Linked DNA regions of Homo sapiens: region 2 is linked to region 1. The links come from fine-mapping of genetic effects on gene expression. A gene starts in region 1. The other region holds a variant in brackets. All regions are shown on one strand. Distances are between the middles of the regions.

Evidence for each region.
Region 2: its variant is fine-mapped to the expression of GALNTL5 in prefrontal cortex (BrainSeq, PIP 0.95).

The regions. Positions count from the first base shown.
Region 1 is chr7:151,952,080-151,960,699 of GRCh38, forward strand. It overlaps GALNTL5 (polypeptide N-acetylgalactosaminyltransferase like 5), which reads left to right and starts at 4,367. Exons shown (of 9, transcript NM_145292.4): 1 at 4,367-4,530. LOC105375570 (a long non-coding RNA gene) reads right to left here and starts at 2,843. Exons shown (of 3, transcript XR_007060597.1): 1 at 2,306-2,843. It overlaps LOC105375571 (a long non-coding RNA gene), which reads right to left and starts at 4,266. Exons shown (of 2, transcript XR_928179.2): 1 at 4,172-4,266; 2 at 3,120-3,626.
Region 2 is chr7:152,002,325-152,010,944 of GRCh38, forward strand. It overlaps GALNTL5 (polypeptide N-acetylgalactosaminyltransferase like 5), which reads left to right. Exons shown (of 9, transcript NM_145292.4): 6 at 390-639; 7 at 5,503-5,620. Among named protein-coding and RNA genes, the nearest start is that of GALNT11, 19 kb to the right of the region's middle. The variant G/A (reference allele first, on the strand shown) is at 4,599.

The sequences.
Region 1 (8,620 bases):
CCTAGTACCTTAGAATGGTACTGACTGTGTTTAAAGATAAGGCCTTTAAAGAGGCAGTTAAGTTAAAATGAGGTTGTTAGAGTGAGCCTTAATACAATCGGATTGGTGCCCTTTTAAGAAGAGGACATTACAACACCCAGAGAGAGAACCCCACGGGTGTGTGCACACCTAAGAAAGAGCATGTGAGGACAAAGCAAGAAGGTGGCCAACTGCAAGCCAAGGAGAGAGTCCTCAGAGGAATCCAACCCCACTGGCAGCTTAATCTTGGACTTGTAGCCTCCAGAGCTATGAGAAATTAATTTCAGGCCAGGTTCAATGACTCACGCCTGTAATCCCAGCACTTTAGGAGGCCAAGGTGGGCAGATTATAAGGTCAGGAGTTCAAGACCAGCCTGGCATGGTGGCCAACATGGTGAAACCCCATCTCTACTAAAAATACAAAGATTGCCCATGTCTATAATCCCAGCTACTCGGGAGGCTGAAGGAGAAGAATTGCTTGAACCCAGAAGGCAGAGGTTGCAGTGAGCTGAGATCGCGCCTCTGCACTCCAGTCTGGGTGACAGAACGAGAGACTCTGTCTACAAAAAAAAAAAAAAAAAAAAAAAATTAATTTTGGTTGTTAAACCACCAAGCCTTTAGTACTTTGTTATGGCAGCCTGAGCAAACTAAACTACCCAGGTATTCATGACCAAAATAATGAAAAAACAAATGGTATGGTATGATTTTAATGATAAAAATCTACTCACCAATAAAAAGTAAACTACTGATACATGAAACAATAAGTCTCAAAAATATTATGCTGAATGAAAGAAACCTTACACAAGGTTTCCTACCACTTATCATATCCTTTCAGTTACATGAAATTCTATAGCAGGCAAAACTAATATATGGTAAATAAAATCAGAATAGTGCTTGCTTCTGGGGCCAGATGGTAATGGGCACTGACAGCAGAGAAGGACCGTGTAGGAACTTTCTAGGTTCTGTAATTTTTAAAAGGGTTCAGTTACACAGGAGTATGGGCTTGTTAGCCTGAGAAACAGAACCAGTAAGAGAAACACATGAAGAAATGTATTGCCAGGAGTTGGCTGGTGCACAACGGTAGGGGCTGGCAAGGCAAGTCTGAAATCGGTAGGGCAAGCCCTAAGGAAGGGCTGTTCATGACTCGTTTTCCTTTCCCTTGGGAAAAATCTTGGAAATAAAAATTCTATGGTGTAGCTGCTTTATAAAACAGTCTGGCAATTACTCAAAAAATTAAACCTGGAGTTACCACATGCAACTCTACTCCTATGTGTATACTCAAGAGAACTGAAAACTTATGTCCACACAGAAATGTGTACAGGAATATTCATAGCAGTACTATTTATAACACCCCCAAAGTGGAAACCAGCTAAATATTCACCAGTTGATGAATAGATAAATAAAATGGGGTATTTTCAAACAACAGCTCATTATTCAGGCATAAAAAGGAATGAAATACTGACAAATGCCACAAAATGGATGAAAGGTGAATTGTACGAGATGTAATATCTCAATTAAAAAATAAAGTTCCAGGCCGGGTGAGGTGGCTCATGCCTGTAATCTCAGCACTGAGGCTGAGGGGAGTGGATCACGAGGTCAGGAGTTCGAGACCAGCCTGGCCAACATGGCGAAACCCCATCTCTACTAAATATGCAAAAATTAGCTGAGCGCAGTGGCGTGCACCTGTAGTCCCAGCTACCTGAGAGGCTGAGGCAGGAGAATGGCAAGAACCCGGGAGGCGGAGCTTGCAGTGAACTGAGATCTTGCCCCTGCACTCCAGCCTGGGCGACAGAGTGAGACTCTGTCTCAAAAAAAGTTCGGGCACAGTAGATCATGCCTGTAATTGCAGCACTTTGGGAGGCCAAGGTGGGAGGATAGCTTGAGCCCAGGAATTCGAGACCAGCCTGAGCAACATAGCGAGGTCTTGCCTTTACGAAAACTAATATAAAATAAAAAAATTAGCTGGGTGTGGTGGCACATTCCTGCAGTCCCAGCCACTTAAGAGGTTGAGGCAGGAAGATTGCTTCAGCCTGAGAGGTCAAGGCTGCAGTGAGCCATGATCACACCAGCAGTGGTGTGATCCAGCCTGGGCAACAGAGCAAGACTCTGTCTCAAATATATAAATAAAAATATAAATAAATAAACACAATTTGAACTATTGTCCTTGAATACGGTATATGTGCACCTTTCTCAGAAAGAAAGATTTTACTTTATTACACCAAGCAAACTGTGTAATGGTTGCAAAACTCCCACAATAAAATCTTTGTCCAAAAGTTGTGTTGACTCACTTTTTTTCCCTCGTGTTTTGAGGATACGACATACATACAGTGAAGTATATACACTTTCAGTGACCAGCCCAATGCACGTTTGTACAAGTAGGCTCCGTGAAGCCTTCACTCCCCCAGATCAAGAAGACCCAGAACATTCCAGCACTCCAAAAGGCTCTCTCTTGCTCCCTCTCAGTAACCAGCAATCCTGTTCTGGCTCCCAAACACAGCTACTTGTTACTGATAGATAGATAAACTGTTCTATCACTTTAGAGTAGCTTTGCCTTTTCTTGCTCCCTTCCACATGCTGTAGGAATTTGGGTTGTGACCTCAGCAAGCCCTCGTTCTGCAGAAACTTCACAGAAATAGAATCGCGCTCTCCCATGAGCTGCTTCGGTCTCACGCCATGTCTGCGAGATGCATCCATGTTGTATGCAGCTGCAGTCTGGTCTTTTTCACTGCTGGTTTGCATTGCATTATATGAATATGCCACAGTGGGTCCATTCTACTACAGATGGACATTTGGGTTTTTTCCAGTTTGAGGCTAATATGAATAAAAGCTTACTTTTATATTATTAATGGGCAAGAAGGACCTTCCCATCGAGCCTGCAGAAAGGAGACTCATGAGTTTGGCTTGGACGTCATTAATGCCCGTCCGTCTGCCCCAGGAGGTCATTATAGCCCATTATGTTGTTACCGAGCAAAAGAGGTCACTGACCCGTGCGCTAGAAGCCAATAAATACTAAGACACTGGGTTTCAGAGAAAAGAAAAGCTTTTCATTGCAAATTGACCAACACGGAGACAGGAGTCCAGCTCAAATCTGTCTCGCTGTGCTGCCTTTAAGGAAATAATTTTATTAGAAAAGGGTTAGAGGGTGGGTTCCGGGATTAGCAGGAGATCGGTGGAAGGAAAGAGGAGGTCTGGCAAGTCCTCAGACATGCGCAGTTATCTCTTCATGCTTCCTCATGGGTGCTGTGTGCAAATCAAATTCCGGGGCAGTTAATACGAAACATGCGTGGAAATTCAGGCTGTGATATCAGCAAGCTCTTTCTGCAGAAACTCCAGTTGGCCATATTGGGTCCAACTGATTTCTGCCAGTTTTGTTATCACTTGTCACAGTTTCAGTATCTACCCCAGGAGGTCACGATTGCCCATTGTGTCTGTCCCAGGAGAGGTTGCGAGAGGTTCCCACCCACCCCCTTCCACTCACAGACCCTGAAGCAGAGCTTGTCTGGTTTCAGGCAAAACAGAGTCAGCATCCTGAAGCGGGGAGGGTCAAGTCTCCTGGGATGCGTTCAGAAGAAATTTCACAAGCATTTGGCTGAACTTGTGTACTGACATCTAAATGTTGAGTAACGTAGAGTAAAGAATTAAAAGGCAATCAAATAACCCTTTGGCTCATCTTTAAGTTTCTTCATGTTTTCTGAAAGCTTGTTCTTTTTCTTAAGTTTATTTCAAAAATGCTAAAAATTAGCCGGGCGCGGTGGCTCACGCCTGTAATCCCAGCACTTTGGGAGGCCGAGTCGGGCCGATCACGAGGTCCGGAGATGGAGACCATCCTGGCTAACACGGTGAAACCCCATCTCTATTAAAAATACAAAAAATTAGCCGGGCGTGGTGGTGGGCGCCTGTAGTCCCAGCTACTCCGGAGGCTGAGACAGGAGAATGGCGTGAACCCGGGAGGCGGAGCTTGCAGTGAGCGGAGATCGCAGAGATTGCAGAGATTGCACCACTGCACTCCATCCTGGGGGACAGAGCGAGACTCCATCTCAAAAATAAATAAATAAATAAATAAATAAATAAATAAATAAATAAATAAATAAATATAAAAAGCTAAAAATTAGGCCTTGCCTAGAGAAGAGAGTCACCCTGGATTCTAGCCTCACCTAATATGAGGCTTTCCCTATTTTCTCAGCTGAGGGGTAAGGACCCTTAGGACCTTGGAACTCCTGGATTCCACCTGCTGGTTGGAGCTTACAGGCAGGGGCCCCTGTGGGGCTGTGACGCCCTGTGTGATGTCATCAGGCTTTGTGAGGGGGACTGTACTGCCCTTTGAGTACTACTGTGTGGCCCCGCAACCCAGCACAACCAGGTATCTGCTTGGAACCCAGCCACCATAAAGCCTGCTAGCTAAAAAAAATTTTACATCTCTCAGTTCATTCGGCACAGACCCCTGCCTCATTCAGCTGTGACTCTGCTTGGAAAATTCATCAGTTACAAAGCAGCCAATGCAATTATCTCAAGGGTAGGTGAAGTGAGCCCCATGTGCTAGAAGTGGGAACAAAGATGGGGGGAAACGTCTTTCACTTTGAATCAGCGGAAGCAGTACATCAAATCACTGCGTCTTGAAGGAGGTGCTAGCTCTGGGGATTAGGTTTAAGAAGATTTATTTTATTTTTTAAAGAAGGAGTAGCCTCCTAGCTGGTTACACCACCCTAAACGTGGACTGGGCATTGTAATGGCTTTAGTTCATGAAAAATAGGGAAACTTTTCATTACATGTGTCTTTATGCTGGTAATGTTTATACAGTGACTGTATTACTTATTTGAAAAAAATAGGGAAATAAAGGCCCTTAGCAGTGTCATAAAGTCCTAGATCTTATATGGAGATCAGTATTAAGATGGTCCTAGGAAAGCTAGGGGTTAAAAATGCTGATTATAAACTGGGCACGGCAGCTGGCATCTGTAATTCCAGCTCCTGGGAGGCTAAGGTGGCAGGACCATGTGAGTCCAGGAGTTCAAGATCAGCTTGGATGAAAGAGTGAGACTCTGTCTCGAGAAAAAAAAAAAAAAAAAGGAAAAAAAGTGTTGATTATTGACAGAAGAATTAGTTGTGATATTATCTAAAGCATGGTCATGTTTTCCTGATTCAATAGACTCGTATTTTTTTAAAAACTTGGCCAGGCATGGTAGCTCATGCCTGTAATCCCAGCACTTTTGGGGGCCAAGGCAGAAGGATCACTTGAGCTCAGGAGTTTGAGACCAGCCTGGGCAACATAGCAAGACCTCATCTCTATTTAAAAAAAAAAAAAAAAAACAGGCGTGGTGGCACTCACCAGCCTGTAGTACCAGCTACTTGGGAGGCTGAAAGAGGAGGATCATTTGAGCCTGGGAAGTCAAGGCTGCAGTGAGCTGTAATTGGGCCACTGCACCCCAACCTGGGCAGCAGAGCGAGACCCTGTCTCAAAAAAAAAAAAGAAAAGAAAAAAAAAAAGAAAGAAACTCAATGACTGTAAATGCAGATTTAGGCTAGGGTTTTGGCGTGTTGGTGGGGGCATGTTGGTGACTATTAGCTGCATTCTTTTCTCTACAGGATTCTTTTGATCATCTGCTAAGTCTCTTTAATGCACTTAAAATTTTATTTGCTGTACATATGAATCCTCGTTGAAATATATTTTACAAATTCTGTGCTTTTCTAGCATTGAATTCTGCATCTTTTAGTGAAGAAAATAACTGAACATGGTTTTCTTCTGAAGACACAAAGTCCAAAGGCCAATCACACACCTCTTACATCGATCTCTTGATAGGAGGGGTTTTCTGTGTTTTGTGGGAGTATAGGGGGTGGGTTGGGAGGTGAGGTGCTTGTCACAGAGAAAACATAATATAAGAACTCATATTAGTAAAATAAGAAAATTAAGGAGGTTGGGGATATGTTCATAAGTGTTCACGTCTAAAGAGAATTCCCCCCAAGTTTTCCTGATGTATTAGAATCTTTCTAGAGAATAATTTATTTTTCAGTAATAATCCTATTGAGACAGGATTCTTTCAATGTCACTTTGCCAGCTGGACATTTCCCGGCTGGCAGCACCCGTCCTTGGGCCTCACTTGGCTCTAGGCTCACCTCTGGGCTTGCTCTCCCCACTGGACGCAGCAGGCTGCACTCGGCTGGCACTACCGACCTAGATTCTGCACACACACACCACTCTGTGCTTAGCCCATGGCTGGTCTGAGTGTGCCACAACCATCTTCCACCTTGGGCACCAGCATCTGGATGAGGGGGAACATGGTGGTGCCTGAAAACTCAGAGATGCCAACCGCCACAGAGCCCCAAGGGGTGTTACAGCTCTCACCTGGGGAGTCCCAAGGTCTGAGCCCCCAAGGACTGTTACAGCTCTCTGTCTCCTTCCTGCCACCTGCAGCATAGTGAAACGGGGTTGGGGAGGGGGGTGTGTTATGGCTTGTTTGGTTGCGGCAAACAGTGCAAGGGGTGTGTTGCAGCTCATTTGTGCTACAGCTCATTCTGTCCCACCATCCTGCTCCAGCCCACTGGTGCTCCTAGGCTGGCCCAGCCCTACCACCACTTCCCATGATGTGGGGTGGCCATCTGGCACTGGCAGAAGGTGGGAAGGTTACAGTGTTACAGCTCCTTTTGCACCCATCATTCGGTGGGTCCCAGGTCCTTGTCCTGCGTCCAAGAAGAATGAGGTTACACAGACACTGGAGAGTCAGCAAGGCAGAGAAGGGTTTTATTGAGCAACAGAACAGCTCTTGACACAAGAGGGGATCCAAAGTGGGTAGCCCTCTGTGTGAGAGGGGGCTCAAAGATGGATAGTCCCAACATGGGGCTGAGTCTGGGGTTTTCATGGGCTCAGAATGGGGAAGTACATGCTGGAAAGAGCACCAGTCCTTCCAGGTGGGCCTGGAAATAACACCATTTGATTGGCTACAAGGCATTGAGGAAGTTCTCACTCCGGTCGTGGACTCTGGCAACTCAGTTTTCAGGCTTTAAGCTGTCTTTGGCTTGAAGGTTGGATTTCACTGGGGACCTGCCCCTCTCTGCCTAGGAATTTGTCTGTCTCCTGTTGCTATCACTATCATATTAGTGCATGTGTTTATTTTGTATATTACATTTGGTTGTCTCCCCTTACCTTTTTTTTTTAACTAGTTTCTAATTGCTTTTGGTTTTTGGAGAAAGTTGACATGGAAGTTAACTTTAGATAACTTTAAAATTTAGATATTTAATAGGGAGATATGGTGGTAATGTAAATTAAAACAGCTTTATTCTCTTTTCAGGCGTCCTAATTCGCCATTTTCCCTAGTTAGAAGTTGCCTTCTTCTCTTTATATATTTGATACTTTTAATTGGCATAATCAAATATTTCATTTGTAAAGTGCTATTTATTCAATCAATGAATCTCTATTTTGCACCCAGGATCTTGGCCAGAGTGTTAAAGCCTGTGTCCTGGGGGATATTCCTGTTGTAATAAATGCTCCCAAATCAAAATTTACATTCCCCCTCCCTTAATCTGTATCCTCTGGACTCAGTCCCATATATACACCCTGCGTGCCTGCTGGTTCAAGATGGCTGATTCTGCAGCTCCTTTGGGAACACTCTCCTTCTTCCCTTAGCAGGGTAGCAGTTTCCCACACAGGCTAAGTTGTAATGTGACCCTACTTATTGATCTGGTGGCCAGGAGGGTACTGGGGGGAAGGTCCTGAGGCAGGGCACGTGTTGCCTTGCAAAGCAGAGGAGGAGAGCTAGCCTTGTTGGGGAGCAGTGGGCCATTTCTGTAGGCTCAGAGGGTTCCTGTGGACCTGGGCCTTCCAGGTCTCTGGCGTGTCTCTACCCAGACATCCCCATCCCACGTGTCAGAGCCTTCCTCCTTCCCTGGATAGAAGACCAGCCAGGCTTGAGAATTCAACCTTCCCTGGAGTTCTGCTGCCCAGATAATCAGGCCCTGGGCATGATCCTCAGCTCTCCCCGCCCTTCGGTTGTAGGAAATGAGATCCTTCATATGCTAACAAGGGCCTCTGACTCTGTTAATTTGCTTTAAATTGGTGATTACCACCCTCAGCCTTCCTTGCCTTTTTCAGATGCAACCATGGCATCCGGCAATAGCCATCTACCTTGCAATATTTATAATTACTCCTCCCTGTTCCTCAGTCAAGCGCACCAACCAGAAAATTCCTTTCCACCTATATTCCATCCTGATTCACAGCCAGTGAGATTTTAACAAGCACATATCAGCCACAGTATGCCAGGGGCTTTCAGAACACCACCTTTCCACCAGCAATGGGATGCTCAGGGCCAGCCGCCTGGAGGGTGGCTTAGCCCTAAAATCCCCTTTACAGCCCATTTTCCTGGACCATTAGCAACCATCATACTAGGTCAAGTTCCCCAGGAAGAAGACTATTCGACTAAGATTTGCATGGAAAACTTTATTCGGAGCAGATCTGGGGACAAACACTGCAAGGCAGGGACACAAGTAGGTTCAATCAGAGGAAGAGCCTAGATGGCAGTGCAGCTTCCAGAAGAGACTCCACCCACCCCACAGGCAGCTTGCGCTCTCCAGAGTCCCCCCAGATAGACAAGGGAGCTGCACCCATTGACCAGTCT
Region 2 (8,620 bases), 50 kb after region 1:
TGTCTGCATCCCATGCACCAAACTCAATGCCTAAGAAGGTGTCCTTTCAGTAAAAATTTGCTAAATTTAAGCTGATCAGTCAAGACCAAGCTAAAATCATTTTTTAAAATGGAAATCCAGTTCAGTTCCACCTGCTCCTTTAGAATTCTCCCCAAAACCACTCTCTAACCCACAATTACTGGCTTCCCCTCAACATCTATGGCACATGATGTTGCATATTTTTGTACATAATAATGTATTTCTTGTTTCCTTCCAATGAAAATGAAAGCACTGTAAGAGCCAAACACATAGTAAATGCTCAAGAAATATTCATCACATTGAACTTTGATTTGGATTGCCGTATTTTTTCAGCTATGTGGACTAACATTGCCCTGTTCTTGCCTCCCCAGGGGATGTTCTGGTGTTCCTGGACAGCCACTGTGAGGTGAACAGAGTATGGCTGGAGCCCCTGCTGCATGCCATTGCCAAGGACCCCAAAATGGTGGTGTGCCCCCTGATAGATGTCATTGATGATAGAACTCTGGAGTATAAGCCCTCTCCTCTTGTAAGGGGAACTTTTGATTGGAACCTACAATTTAAATGGGATAATGTTTTCTCTTATGAGATGGATGGACCAGAAGGATCTACTAAACCAATCCGGTGAGATTTCTTCTGGTTTTGGAAAAATATAGCATACGTGTATTGAGACCCAGGGGGAAAAAGCCTCCAGAGATTATTCTTTCAAGTTCTTGGGCTTAATCAAAATGTTATGTTACTTGTTTCTAGAAGTCTTTAATACAGTAATAGAATTATTGTTAATAGAATCACTTAGGACTCAATATATAACGTGATATGATATTTATCTTCATATCATCTATAACTCTTTGATTCTCTGGTACTGAACACAATCCTATATGGATTCAATCATGACTTTCAGGAGCAATATTTCATTTGACTAAAAGCTCAAGTCAAACAGATCTGGTTTGAAGGAGAGACTCCATCATTTGTTAGCAGTTTAGGGCTGCCATGTACAGTTGCACCAGCTGTGCACTGCACATCTCCAGGAGATACTGTTCACACAAAGACCACAAGGTCAATGGCATGTCTGGAATTGTACATTAAGATGGCCCTCAGTTGGCACAATTACCTCTCTCAACTTCAATGTCGTCCTCATCTGTTAAACAGTGATAGTAATAATTAACACATTTCTTAGGATCGTTGAGGGGATTAAATGAGCCAATACATGTAAAACACATAGCATAAGGCTTGACACAGAGGAAGTGATCTGATCAATATCAACATTAGCTACAGTAATGTCACAGACTTTGGAACAAAGAGGAACAAAAGTGTACTTTATTGTAATAAAATGTAATATGTAGAAATCTCAACTTAATAAAAATAAACAGCATTAATCTTTTGAGTTATCTCAAAACTATTTTAAATAGTTACTTTTAGTAAGAAATAGCTATGGTGTTCCAATTACACAAACTTGGTTTATAATTTTTGTAATATTTCCATATCTCACATATAAAACATTTTTAGGCTCTAATGTAAAAATAACTGATATTCAACAGGGAAACTGTATTCCTAATATTTATTTGCTAAATGGTAAAATGTTTAGAATTCTAATACACTGCTCGTGTGTATATACATTGGATCATTCTTTTTGAAAACAATTTGGCAATGCAAATTAAGAATCTTATAAATATCCTTATTCTTTGATGCAGTAATCCACTTACTTGAATTTATTTGAAGAGAGTCAGAAATAAGCACGGAGATATATATAGTGTGTCAATATTTATATTCATAAAAAACTGAAAACAACATATTCAATACTATTGAAATGGGTAAAAAATAAAGTATATTCATTTTTATGGACTATCACATAATCATTAAAGTTAAGTTTTCAAGGGCTAATTAACTAGAAAGAAAACTTCTCATGTGTTAAATTAAAAAATCAAACCATAAAAAATGTTCTGTCAGTATACCTTTGTGTGATTAAATATGTACCTATTATATGTAATATATATTATACATATTACATATATTATAATTGTATGTTACATTAAAATATATAATATGTATAAGAAAACATAAGTTATTTTTTAAAGGTTAAAAGAAAAAATAAATTTTATTTTGTTATTTTATTGATTTATTATTATTTGTATAAATATAAGGGGTACAAGTGCAATTTTGTTATATGGCTATATTGCCTAGTGGTAAAGTCTGGACTTTCCAAGTATCCACCACTCAAACAATGTACACCGGACCCATTAAGTCACTTCTCATCATCCATTGCCCTCCTGTCACCACCCTTCTGTCTCCAATGCCTGTCAGTCCACACTCTATGTCCATGTGTATACATTATTTAGTTCCCACTTATAAATGAGAACATGTGTATTTCTCTTTCTGCTTCTGGATTGTTTCACTTAAGATAATGGCCTCCAGTTCCATCCATGTTGCAGCCAAAGACATCATTTTATTCTTTTTTATGGCTGAATAGTATTCCATTGTGTATATATACCACATTTTCTTTATCCAGTCTTCCACTGAGGGACACTTTAGTTGATCCCATGACTTTACAGTTGTGAATAGTGCTGTGATAAACATACAATGGCAGGTATCTTTTTGACACAGATGATTTCTTTCCCTTTAGGAAGATACCCAATAGTGAGAATGCTGGATTCAATGGTAGTTCTACTTTTAGTTCGTTGAGAAATCTCTGTATTGTTTTCCACAGCGGTTGTACTAATTTACATTCCTACCAACACTGTGCAAGCGTTCCCTTTTCTCCTCATCCTCGCCAGCATCTGTTACATATTAGTCATGGTATTAATTAGCATTCATATCTGAAGATACATTTTTCCCTTAGTTCTAATGACGACCAAAAAAGCTAGGTGCAATGAGTTTTGGAAAACTTAACACACACACACACAAAAAGCAAAATCATGCCTAGGGCTTAAGCCAATGATAACTCAAGACCTCCCCAGCTCCCTGACATGCAGGCATCACCATGACCAAGGATCATGCCCTTTTCCCCCAGCCACCTGCCCTTTTCTAAGGGCAGAGCAAGGCCCTTTCACTTTCTCCCTGCTGTCTCAGACCACAGCTGACTCCAACGTTTTCGGCCTGCACACCAAATGGACGGAACTGCAGTGCCCTGAGATGAGAAATACCATGAGTGGAGCAGGTTTTTGGCAGGAAGATTCTCTTTGGGGCATATTTGAGATGTCTATTTGGCATTCAAGTGGGGATGTGAAGTAGGTAGTTGGATGCAGTTGGATACATGAGTCCCTTATGAGATGGATGGGCCAGAAGGACCTACTAAACCAATCTGGTGAGATTTCTTCTGGTTTTGGAAAAATATAGAATATGTATATTGAGACCCAGGGGGAAAAAGCCTCCAGAGATTATTCTTTCAAGTTCTTAGGCTTAATCAAATTGTTCTGTTACTTGCTTCTAGAAGTCTTTAATACAGTAATAGAATTATTGTCAATAGAATTACTTAGGACTCAATCTATAACATGATATGACATTTATCTTCATATCATCTATAACTCTTTGATTCTCTGGTACTGAACACAATCCTATATGGATTCAATCATGAGTCTGGAGTTTTGAGAGAGGTCAGGGCTGGAGGCATCCTTTGGGAGTCATGGATAGGATGGATGAGAATCACTATGTGGGTGAGTGGAGAAGTGTAGAGGACCAGCCCTGAGCCCTGGGTGCTTCAACATTGACAGTTGAGAGGAGGAGAGGAACTGGCAAAGGAGATGGGAAGGAGCAACCAGGGAGGGAGGAGAAGGACCAGGAAATCTGGTTCCCTGGAGGCCCAGGGAGGCATGTGTGTCCAAGAGAAGGGTGTGGCCAGCAGCATCCAACACAGTGGCTGGATCAGCGAGAGAAGGACTGGAAATGAGCATTGGACTAAACCATGAGAAGGTCATGAACAAGTCTTAATTGTGAATGGCGGGAGGCGAAGCCTGATGGAAGGGAGTTTAAGGGAATTAGAGATAGTGATGGACAAATCTTTCTAAGGCTTTAATACGAAAGAGAGAAAAGGGGACATAACTGACAGGAAGTGGGGTCAAAATAAGGCGGTTTTAATTTTGTAATTGGCAGAGATAACAGCATGACTGGATTCTGATAGGAATGTTCCTATCTGGTGCACTCGGCAATGTGTGTCACATCTGGTGCAGTAGGCACCCCACACCCGACCCATAAGCAAATCTGTTAGCTCCATCTCCAAAATATGCCAGGAATTCAACCGCATCTTACTACCTACATTGCTGCATTCTTATCCCGGATCCCATTATTTTTCTCTGCAGCCCCTCTAATTGGCTTCCCTACCCTTTCCCCTACACATGGGTCTTGGTTTGTGTGTTGAGTGACTCATATCCCTAAAACATAGGTGCTCAATAAATACTTATTTGAACAAATGAATGTAAACTTGTGATTATTTTTCTTTTTCTTTTTTTTGGGGGGGGCGGGACAGATTCTCACTCTGTTGCCCAGGCTGGAGTGCAGTGGTGCGATCTCAGCTCACTGCAGCCTCCCAGGTTCAAGCGATTCTCATGCCACAGTGTCCTGGGTAGCTGGGATTACAGGCGCGGGCAACT[G/A]CATCTGGCTAATTTTTGTATTTTTCGTAGAGATGGGGTTTCACCATGTTGGCCAGGCTGGTCTTGAACTCCTGACCTCAAATGATCCACCAGCCTCAGCCTCCCAAGTGTTGGGATTACAGGTGTGAGCCACCACACCCAGCTGTGACTATTTTCAAACTACTTAGTTTGGTATTATTTGGCCCTACTATTGGTGGACAAAACAAGATGCTTCTTAATATTATGGTTTGTCCAGAAGTAAATATTACAATTCACCTAATGTCTTTAGAAAGGGAGAGCTCTGAGCCCTGCTACCCAGTTCAATTGTCATCCTCATGGGAAACTTACATTCCAAATATCATTTTCCTTCTCATTAGGAAAACATTTAGAATATATCGCATACACATTTTGGTGAGAACTAAGTAAAAGTTATTGCCTACTTTTGTTGTGGTTTTTAGTAATTTTATATACTTAAATGTATAATAGGATAATTTTAGTATTAATGTTTTCTCTTTTTTTTTTTTTTTTTTTTTTGAGACAGAGTCTGGCTCTGTCGTCCCAGGCTGGAGTGCTGTGGCACGATCTCAGCTCACTGCAACCTCTGCCTCCCAGGTACAAGCGATTCTCCTGCCTCAGCCTCCCGAGTAGCTGGGACTACAGGCGCATGCCACCTTGCCTGGCTAATTTTTTGTATTTTTAGTAGAGACGGGGTTTCACTGTGTTAGCCAGGATGGTCTCGATCTCCTGAACTCGTAATGCACCCGCCTCGGCCTCCCAAAGTGCTGGGATTACAGGCATGAGCCTCCACACCCGGCCTGTTTTCTCATTTTAAACTATAAGTTATTACTAATTTAATATAATTTTGAGGAAACTACAGAATGACTTTCTCTGTGAAATTAATTTCATATTTATGTCCCCTTTCTAGGTCACCTGCAATGTCTGGAGGAATTTTTGCTATACGTCGGCATTATTTTAATGAAATTGGACAGTATGACAAGGATATGGATTTTTGGGGAAGAGAAAATTTGGAACTTTCACTAAGGGTAATTCAGATTTCATTTTTAAAATAGCTATAGAGAGTGAAACCTAACTTTGTCACATACAATGCTGTGGTAATTATGCTCAATTTTCCTACATGAACATCCAGTACCATTCCAGCAGCACATGCAATAAACAATTTATGGGGCTCCTTGTAAAAATGGAAAACATTTAATAAAATATTAGATTCTTGGCCTGGTGTGGTGGCTCATGCCTGTAATCTCAGCACTTTGGGAGGCTGAGGCAAGTGGATTGTTTGAAGCCAGGAGTTCAAGACCAGCCTCAGCAACATAGCAAGACCCCCATCTCTACTTTTTTTTTTTATGAGATGTGGTCTCGCTATGTTGCCCAGGGTGGTCTTGAACTCCTGAGCTCAAGTAATCCTCCCATCTCGGCCTCCCAAAGCACTGAGATTACAGGTGTGAGCTACTGTGCCTAGACTCTACTTCTTAAAATAAATATATTTAATTTAATTTAAAAATATTTGGTTCTTATACCATATGTTTTGTTATTTCTGATGTATGGTATATCAAATTAATATAATATTTTAAATCTATTGTCTTTATTGTCTCAGTAGTTGTGTTTTTTCCAATTTTTTCTGTTTTGGATTTTATTTTCTCTCTCTTTTCCTTCCTTCTTTTGGCCAGTTATTTGTTCACTTTTAAAGTTCCCAAGCAGACTTCTTTCATAATGCTTCAGATACTTGATTATGCATATAAAAATATCTAGAACAATATAGTTTCCTCCAAGCCTCTATCTGATGGTCCCTCTTAAGCTTGTTGTTTTTGTTGTTTGTTTGTTTGTTTGTTTGCTTGCTTTGTTTTTTTCATTCTCATGTTCCCTTTGGACGTAGGCATTATTTTATAACGCTCATGCCTTTGGCGCATTTTATTCTGTTTAGTTGATTATTCCTTGTTTTATTATATTGCACTCTAAGAAAATGGCTCAAGGAGTTCACCTCCTTTCAGGATCTAATAACTGTGATCAGTTTTGTGTATTATACAGGCAGAGTTGGAGAGTCAGTATATTCCTTTTTCTGGCCCTACATTCCCTATAGATAGCAAATGACAACTAATTTATTATTCAAACATTAATTATTCCTACTCCAATATTTCAATGGCGCCTTTCCTGATGGCCTGTCATATCTTTTAAATATACTTGGGTGTCTTTTTATAAAGAAGTATGTAAATTAATAAGTAGCTGAAATATTCTCTTGACACTGGCAGCTGTCTCTAACCACGACAAGTAACCTTGTCTTTCCTGAGAAAAGAATGATCTCTGCACCTGCATACACCTCTTCATTTCTCGTTTACTCCTCATTCCAGTAAATCGATATCCTGGAAGGCCCTCAGCTTTCCGTGACATCGTTCCAGGAACTGCCACCAGTTTTGTAGTGATGTCCTTAATGGATGGCTTTTGATCTTCCATCTATCTGAGGTCATTGCAGCATCTGACACTAAACTGTCTTTTCTGGAAGTTTTCTTGGACGTTAGGACAATATTCCTGGTTTGCCTTCCATTGCTCAGTTGTTCTCAGTTTCCTTTGTAGGAATTTCTGCTGTGGCTCATCTCTTAGACACAGGTGTCCCCAAGGTTTCCATCCTTGTCAGACTTTGCTTCTTACCCCATGTGCTCTTCAGGGCTCAGGGCTAGCATCCAGGTCCTCTGCTCCTGTGAAGCCACACTGGTTGTTAACATAATGCAGTCTTTCTGCATCTGGTGTGAAAAAACCTCTACTCTGAGCCAACCAAATACCTTCCACCTGCAGCCCAACCATAGGTCTACGCTCCCTGGACCTTCCCATGTTCCAGTAACTAAGGGAATAGCACTTGGCAGGGCAAGTCTACTCTGATCGCCGAGGGTCTGTGCCACACCCTTGTTGATATTTTTAGTAGGATACTTGCATCAGTCCCCATGGCTGTAACTAATACCTGTATCACGATAATATCCAACTCTATAGTTTCAGTTTAGGACTATCTCTTGAGAGTAATATTTAAGCTCAATCTAGCCATCATTTAAGGAGCACTTCCTTTAAGTCAAACTGTGCTGTATGCTGAGCATTGAGAAGAAGACACAGTCTTCATTAATTCATCCATGCAACAATATGTATTGAGTACTGTTATGTATGAAGCACTGTGCTGGGTGCTAAAATACAGTGGCACACAATACGAAAGTGGCTTCTTTTTTTTTTTTGAGACGGAGTCTTGCTCTGTCGCCAGGCTGGAGTGCAGTGGCACGATCTTGGCTCACTGCAATCTCCGCCTCCCAGGTTCAAGCGATTCCCCTGCCTCAGCCTCCCGAGTAGTTGGGACTACAGACATGCACCACAACACCTGGCTAATTGTTTGTATTTTAGTAGAGATGGGGTTTCACCATGTTGGCCAGGATGGTCTTGATCTTCTGACCTTGTGATCCGCCTGCCTCGGCCTCCCAAAGTGCTGGGATTACAGGCACAAGCCACCGCGTCCAGCCAAAAGTGCTTCTAATGTCATGAATCTTCTATCTATTGAGTAGGGTGAGATTATCAGATATTTAATTTTATTTTTGGCCCAGGTGCGGCAGCTCACACCTATAATCCCAGCACTTGGGGAGGCCAAAGTAGGTGGATCACCTGAGGTCAGGAGTTTGAGACCAGCCTGGCTAACATGGTGAAACCCCGTCTCTTCTAATAATACAAAAATTAGCTGGGCATGGTGGTACACGTCTGTAATCCCAGCTACTCAGGAAGCTGAGGCACGAGAATTGCTTGAACCTGGGAGGTGGAGGTTACAGTGAGCCGAGATCGTGCCACTGCATTCCAGCCTGGGCGGACAGAGCGAGACTCTGTCTCAAAAAAAAAAAAAATTATTTTTGATAAATGCAATAGAAAAATACAGAGTATTATGGGACCCTCTAAAAGGAGAACCTAGCCTTCTCTTGGGGGATTATGTGTCTTAGATGGCTTCCCTGAAGAACTGACATTTAAGATACATGTAAAGGATAAAATATATTTTATTTAACAAGTTC